Homo sapiens: one gene and its partner. The protein of the gene in region 1 purifies or fractionates together with the protein of each later gene. This does not show direct contact. Each region holds a gene or a part of one and is shown on either strand. Other genes may lie near its edges.

Region 1 (3,500 bases):
TTTGAGGCTTTCGGCTGGGACTGGATCATCGCACCTAAGCGCTACAAGGCCAACTACTGCTCCGGCCAGTGCGAGTACATGTTCATGCAAAAATATCCGCATACCCATTTGGTGCAGCAGGCCAATCCAAGAGGCTCTGCTGGGCCCTGTTGTACCCCCACCAAGATGTCCCCAATCAACATGCTCTACTTCAATGACAAGCAGCAGATTATCTACGGCAAGATCCCTGGCATGGTGGTGGATCGCTGTGGCTGCTCTTAAGGTGGGGGATAGAGGATGCCTCCCCCACAGACCCTACCCCAAGACCCCTAGCCCTGCCCCCATCCCCCCAAGCCCTAGAGCTCCCTCCACTCTTCCCGCGAACATCACACCGTTCCCCGACCAAGCCGTGTGCAATACAACAGAGGGAGGCAGGTGGGAATTGAGGGTGAGGGGTTTGGGGGAAAGGGGAAGCAGGGGCATAGTCAGGGTGGGGAGTGTTTGAAGTTTGCAGATGAGAAGGTTTGACAAAAAGACAGAGAGATGTAGAGACAGTGATAGAGACAGAGGAACAAAAAGAGCAGCAGTGAGAAGGCAAAGAGAGAGGCAGAAGAGACAGACGAGGCAGAGACAAAACACTGAGAAAGAGACTGAAATGGAGTAATAAATGAAAGCCCCACACCAAGCCTCCTTTCTTCCACTGGCAAGGTGAGGGGCTTGGTATAGTTTGGGGAGATCCCCTGACTATTCAGTAGGAGAAGAAATCAAAAATCCATTCTTTTCTCCTTCTCTCCCTCCAACAGTGGCCAGGGGAAGGGGAAGTGAGGGCAGGGGCAAAAAGATTTGGGAATTTTTATTTATTTATTTATTGTGACTTTTCATTTTTTTGGTATTTGGCTTTACTGGAATAGGAGGGCCCCTGCCCACTGTGCCCCGTTTATCCCTTATTCCCCAAACCCTGCTCTCCCCAACACCTACTCACTTAAGCACTTGTATAAAGCCTCCAGGGTTGGGAATGGGAGTAAAGGGCAAGAGGGCGGACACATGAAGTTTAGTTTCTAACCCATCATCACCCTAACTCAACCTTTTCTGAGCCAAATGGCTTGAATTGAAGCCAGTTGTCATGGAAATAGTAAGAGGTTAGGGTTTAAGAGCTGGGGATGCGGGGGTGGGAGAGAGAACCCTCAACATCCAGGATCTATATAATGAGAGCTACTTTAAACCCTCAGGTCCACCCTCATGATGCTGAGTTATTTAGCCAGAGGGTGCAGCCTGCTTATGCCCAAATTCCCTCAGCCAAGAGAGAGACCAAAGAGCCTCTGGAATGGCCCTGCTCCCAGCCTCTATCTTCAGGTCAATTAGAGAGAGTATAGAGACCCCAGAGTCCCCTGGGTCTGGAAAGCGTTAGGAGAGGTCAAGAAAGGAGCAGTAAGGAGGCTGAAGGTTACAGGGCATTTGAATCCAAATCACTGCTCTGGGCTAGGGAATAGAGCCAGCAGACCAAGGTGGGAAGGATTCTGGAAGGGGGACATTTTAGTCTCCTAACCCCAAAGCTCAGGGTGGAAGAGGGGAGAACAAGGAAGCAGAGTGTATAATTATTTTTTCCTTTTATTTTTGGAATCTAACAGTACCTGGCAGCAGGGAGGGGAAAGTACAGTGGGGAAAAGCATCTGACAAGGCCAGTTAGAACAGAGGATGGGAAGGATGGAGACTCCCGGGCTTGGAAGGCTAGGAAGCAGGCAGAGACTGGTTGCCATTTCAAGTCACTAGCTAGGCCCATTCATTCCTCCCACAACCCTGACCCATTCTCCTCTGGACTCACTGTGCCTCAGTTTCTTCCCCTCAATGGAATGAGAAATGACAGCACCCGCCACAGCCAAGAGATGAATTCTGAGCACTTACCACGGGCACTTTATGGACATAAAATACCTCTCGCTGTGGGACAGATAACCAGGGCACCAGAGTAGTGGTGAAGAGATGTGAGGCTTAAGAGGAGTCACAGGCTTCAGAGTACAAGTTCCCCTCTGCCTCCCAGCTGGACAGTGCCTAGAAGCCAAGGAGTTGAGAATCTCCTGATCCACACCCTATCCTTACTTCACCACCAGGCCTCTTGGCTCCAGGCAAGAGCTTAGAGGATGTCAGGAGAGGTGGGGGTAAGAATCTTCAGCAAAACTGTCACTCTAAGTAGAGCCAGCAGTTACGGGTCTGATAAAAACAGTACTGAACTAAAGTAAAGCCCAAGCTGGTGAGCAAAACTGGATGGCTCATTCTTCCCAAGAGCATGACTCTCCCCCTTGGCCAGTTGGTGGAAGGGGCAAAGGTATGTGACCACCCTTGAGAAGGTGATGTTGGTGAGCTTTAACATCTTATTCCTATTCTTATAGTGAGAAAGTGAAACAAGATCTTTCAGTAGAGGAATGGGCAGGGCTGTTAGGCTCTTCAGCTTGCCTTCACCCATATAGCAGCTATGCTAACCCCAAGCCTCTCTGGCCCTGTTCTTCATCCTTCCTTCTGCCCCAATCCTGAAGGACAAGACACACCCGGCCATCAACACCACTCACATTTCCTTGGTGGAAGGAAAGGAACAGAGAAGTGAAGAACAGATACCTCCCTCCAAGGTCAAATGCCTCGTGATCTTGGCAGAGTAGGGATTGGGCAATAAGCATCAGGTATCTTCCCTCTACAGATTCTAGAGAGCTGGGGCATTAAATATGGGGGACACTTAGAATACAGCTCCTTAAATACCACCAAATAAAGACCTTTGTGTGTGTGTGGTGGGTGGGGGGGGGGCAGGGGTCTTTCTCTTATGAACATAAATCTGTGAGCTGAAGTCTCATTCCCCTGTTCCTCCCTACCCCCAAAGAGGCACAGAGTGAAGGGACTTGGGGGGCACAGCTCAGCAACCCAGTGGGAGTTAGCACCCCCTCCCACCTTATGATGTGTGTGGACCTGGCCAGTGCCCCTCTGAACATATCATTATTAGTGTAATTATCATTTATTTTGTGTATTTGTCACATTGTGTGCATGACAGCCTTTGTTAAGGGTGTCTGAGGAGTATGGAGCTGACAGGGGCATTGGAATGCCAGGAAAGAACTTCTTCAACTGAGATCAAGGCTTCCTGGAGGGAACCACTGCAAAAAGGCCATCAGGCAGTTTTCAAGTTATGTGACAGAGGGCAAAGACGGCCATAGGGTGCTCTGAGTTTTGGGATGGTCACATGACACAATCCAGCACTTGAACCTGAAAAAAAAAATAAAAGCGGTCAAAGAGTTTAGAATTCAGTGCTGAGCTCTTCTCCCTAATCAAGTGCCACATTTACACCTTGGAGAACCGGAGGTGAAGAGGATCTGAGACAGGAAACCTCGTGTTCAATGACTAAGAAGATGGGGTCCTGGAGCAAGACAGAAAACACTAAGGGCATGGTGGTATAAGGTTTGGGACATGCAGGCCAAGGAAGGATGGAAAGAGGACAGGAAACTGGGGGTACCTAGAACAACCCCTCTCTGAAAAGCTTGAGCCAA
Region 2 (3,500 bases), on another chromosome or scaffold:
GCTAGAGGTTTGGCCGGGCGCGGTGGCTCATGCCTGTAATCCCAGCACTTTGGAAGGCCGAGGCGGGCGGATCACGAAGTCAGGAGATTGAGACCATCCTGGCTAACACGGTGAAACCCCGTCTCTACTAAAAATACAAAAAATTAGCTGGGTATGGTGGCGGGCGCCTGCAGTCCCAGCTACTCGGGAGGCTGAGGCAGGAGAATGTCTCGAACCCGGGAGGCGGAGCTTGCAGTGAGCCGAGATTGCGCCACTACACTCCAGCCTGGGTGACAGAGCGAGTCTCAAAAAAAAAAAAAAAAAAAAAAAAAGTCAAAACATTTTAGGCAGTCAGCGAGCCTCGTAAATATGTGTTCCTCTGCTGTTGAGAGAATTTGGGTGAAAACGTTTGAGAAGTTTGGAGACTTCTCATTTTAAAATTGGGGAAACTGAGGCTGAAAGGACAAAAGTAGCTCACACAAGGTCATGCAATGAATGACTGGACTTAGAACCCAGGACTCTGAGGCCAGGCTTGTCCCACCACACCCCCTTGTCTGTCTAGGCAAGAGTAAGGGACCTGCAAGTGGTTTTCAGTGTGAGACTTAGGAAAAACTTTACCTGGGGAAGGTAGGAGCAGCCTCACAGAAGGGCTGGCACGTGAGTCCCTAAGGATGCGCTTCCTGGGCACAGAAATCAGGTTGAGCACAGAGGCAGAGAGAACCCTCTTATTCAGGAGCAGTTGTCTCCTCAATGCTGGTTCATCCCCAAAAAGTCAAAGAAGGGCAGTTTTCCCAGACTGTCTTCCACAGAGATGAGACCCCTCCCCAGGCCTCAGTTTCCCCATCTGTGGAATGAGGATTCTCAGGCTTCACAGACGTTTCCACTAAAATGGGCTGTCTTGGGCTCCTGGCACAGCACTGCTGCTCTCTGAGGGGGACCCCGTCTTCTCTCTGTGTCTACGTTCCTGTTGCTTTCCCTGTTCCTGCCTTGCTGAGCTCCTCAGAGGTGGGGAAGCCAGACATCTGCTGATCCATGAATATTCAGGAAGGGAATCGGAGCCTCCTCTGGGCTCCCCAGCCAGCCGCCAGCCCCTCTGGCGGCCGTCCTGCCTGCCAGAGCCCAGGCTGCTGACATACCCAGCAGCTGCTCGGGCCCCAACTGTTCACATTGTTTGTTCAACGCAGCAGGGGATTTTCCAAGCCTGGGACATGCTTTAGGGGGCAGGGAGGCTGCCGGAGGGCTCAGGGATTTGTGTCCTTTGGGGGTTTTCTCCCCTGAAACCCAAACCTACTGCTTAGTGGCTGGAATGGGCATTTGGAAGCCACTGGACTGAGAGCCGGGCTTGCCTTCCTCCTACCCTGTACTTGAATCATGGCATCTAGGGCCTTAGAGATAGAAGGGACTGGATGATAAGAACAGCAAATAGCACTTGTACAGCCCTTTATAGTTACAAAGTGCCTTTAAAGAATAAGCTCCCCGCCGGGCATGGTAGCTCATGCCTGTAATTCCAGCACTTTGGATGTGCTCTTCCAGAGCACTGGATCTTCCAGAGCCAAGGCGTGATCTTCCAGAGCCAAGGCAGGCAGATCACTTGAGGTCAGCAGTTCAAGACCAGCCTGGCCAAAATGGTGAAACCCTGTCTCTACTAAGAATACAAAAATTAGTCAGGTGTGATGGCGCATGCCTGTAATCCCAGCTACATAGGAGGCTGAGGCTGGAGAATCATATGAACCCAGGAGGTGGAGGTTGCAGTGAGCTGAGATCATGTCACTGTACTCCAGCCTGGGCAACAGAGCACAACTGTCGCAAGAACAAACAAACAAAGAATAAGCTCCCATTCCTTGAGTGATGTCTATTAGGCTCTGGGCTGTAGCCCTGACATACATTGTCTTGTTTAATTCCTTCACGCTTAGTGGTATCATCTTCATGTGGAAACTGAGTCCCAGAAAAGTTAAGTGGCTTGTCACAGAGCTGGTAGGTGGAGCAGCAAGACTGAAACCTTGATCTTCTTCCCCAAGGTCAAAAGCTGTTTCCACCACAGCACGTGGCCCGCAGTAGTGTGAATGCCAGATTGGTTTCCCCAACTAGAATGCAAACTTGGTGAGGGCAGGGGCTGCTTCTCCCTGCTGAGCCCGCGAGTACTGCTGAGACTAGTTGTGAAGCCAGAGGTGTCCAGCAGAAACCATCTGATGAATTAAGAAAGGCAGCAGCCCAGGTCAGGTCCTGTCTCTCCGTCCGCCCTTCACACTGCAATCCCAGGCCCTGGCCTCCTTATTTCACGCAGCCATCACTGCTCTTCTCCCCTCACTCTTGTTCCTCTTTGGAGCTGGTGGGAAGGGAGTCTGGAGACTCACAGGGCTTCTAAATGTTGACCTGTGTGTCCAAGTGTTGATGAGTGTGGCAGAGACTGAGGCGCATGTGTTTAGGAGTGCAGAGCTATGTTTACCAATTTGTGTGTGGTCTCAATGGTGTTTTATGTTTGTTCAGGAATAGGTGTGTCCATGTCGTGAATAATCATAGAATCATAGCATCTCAGAGGTCACCTGCTACATTCCAGTGAGCTGGGGCCCAGAAGGGGAAATGACTGGGCCAAAACCACATGGCTAGACTGTGATGGAGCTGGATCTAGAACCGAGGGTCTCCTGATTCCCTCGCCATTGTTTTGTGCACGTCCCCACGTGGCTCTGTCAGCCCAGACCTGCCTTGTGATGAGTATGGGCCATTGTCCTGACCTCTGGCCCTGGTTCCTCTCAGACATGCCATTCTGCCTTAAAGTAAGGAGTCAGACCAGAGCCTAAGAAGGGACCTTGGGCCATTGAGCTTTTATAAGACAAGGAGGCAGCAGGTCAACCTTCTGGAAGACACAACAGGGAGAACCAACCATTTGTCTATGAATAATGGTGGCTGGGCCCTGCAGAACATTGGTTCCAATAATAAACATTGGCTTTTGTGTGTTTTTGCCTTGACCCTGGGATGGCATTCCCTTCCTCTACTGTTTCCCTACTCTTCCCTTTGTGGCAAGGGCAGTGTTGGGGTCTGTAGGTTCCTCTGGGGCCTTGGGAGAAAAAAGAACCCTGGATTGAGTCAGGAGACCTGAGTCCTGGCTCTGGCCTCCTGCATGGCCTTGGGGAAATTAGCTGCAGGGAGTGTTGAGCTTCTCCAGTCACCAGTACAGACCAGGCTGTGGGCTGCCAGGGCCTGGAATGAGCCATGTGAGCCTCCTCTCATGCTGGGTCTGAATCCAGCTTGAGTCTAGTCCCTACCTGGGGCACTTAACAATTCCCAGCAGGATCTGCTCACTTAGTTCATTGTTGGGGAAGGGGGAATGTCTGACTTTCCTTCATCCAGGTGGCTCCCCCAAACAGCTGGGACTTATTTTTGTTTTGTTCATTCAAAATATATAGTATTCACACACACACACACACACACACACACACACACACATTTTCTCACACTTATAATACATTTTAAATGTTTCTTGGATATGGTATTTTTCTAGCCTGTGTGTGTGTGTGTGTGTG

What was found.
Region 2: the proteins of GDF11 (region 1) and IGDCC4 purify together in Homo sapiens (affinity purification with mass spectrometry; one large-scale study listed by BioGRID and IntAct). This does not show direct contact.

What each region holds. Positions count from the first base shown.
Region 1 is NC_000012.12:55,749,622-55,753,121, forward strand, and holds part of GDF11 (growth/differentiation factor 11 preproprotein), read left to right. Parts: coding exon 1-261; 3' UTR 262-3,500. UniProt on the Homo sapiens protein: Secreted signal that acts globally to regulate anterior/posterior axial patterning during development. May play critical roles in patterning both mesodermal and neural tissues. It is required for proper vertebral patterning and orofacial development.
Region 2 is NC_000015.10:65,412,948-65,416,447, reverse strand, and holds part of IGDCC4 (immunoglobulin superfamily DCC subclass member 4 precursor), read left to right. Parts: intron 1-597; exon of another isoform or gene 598-1,120; intron 1,121-3,500.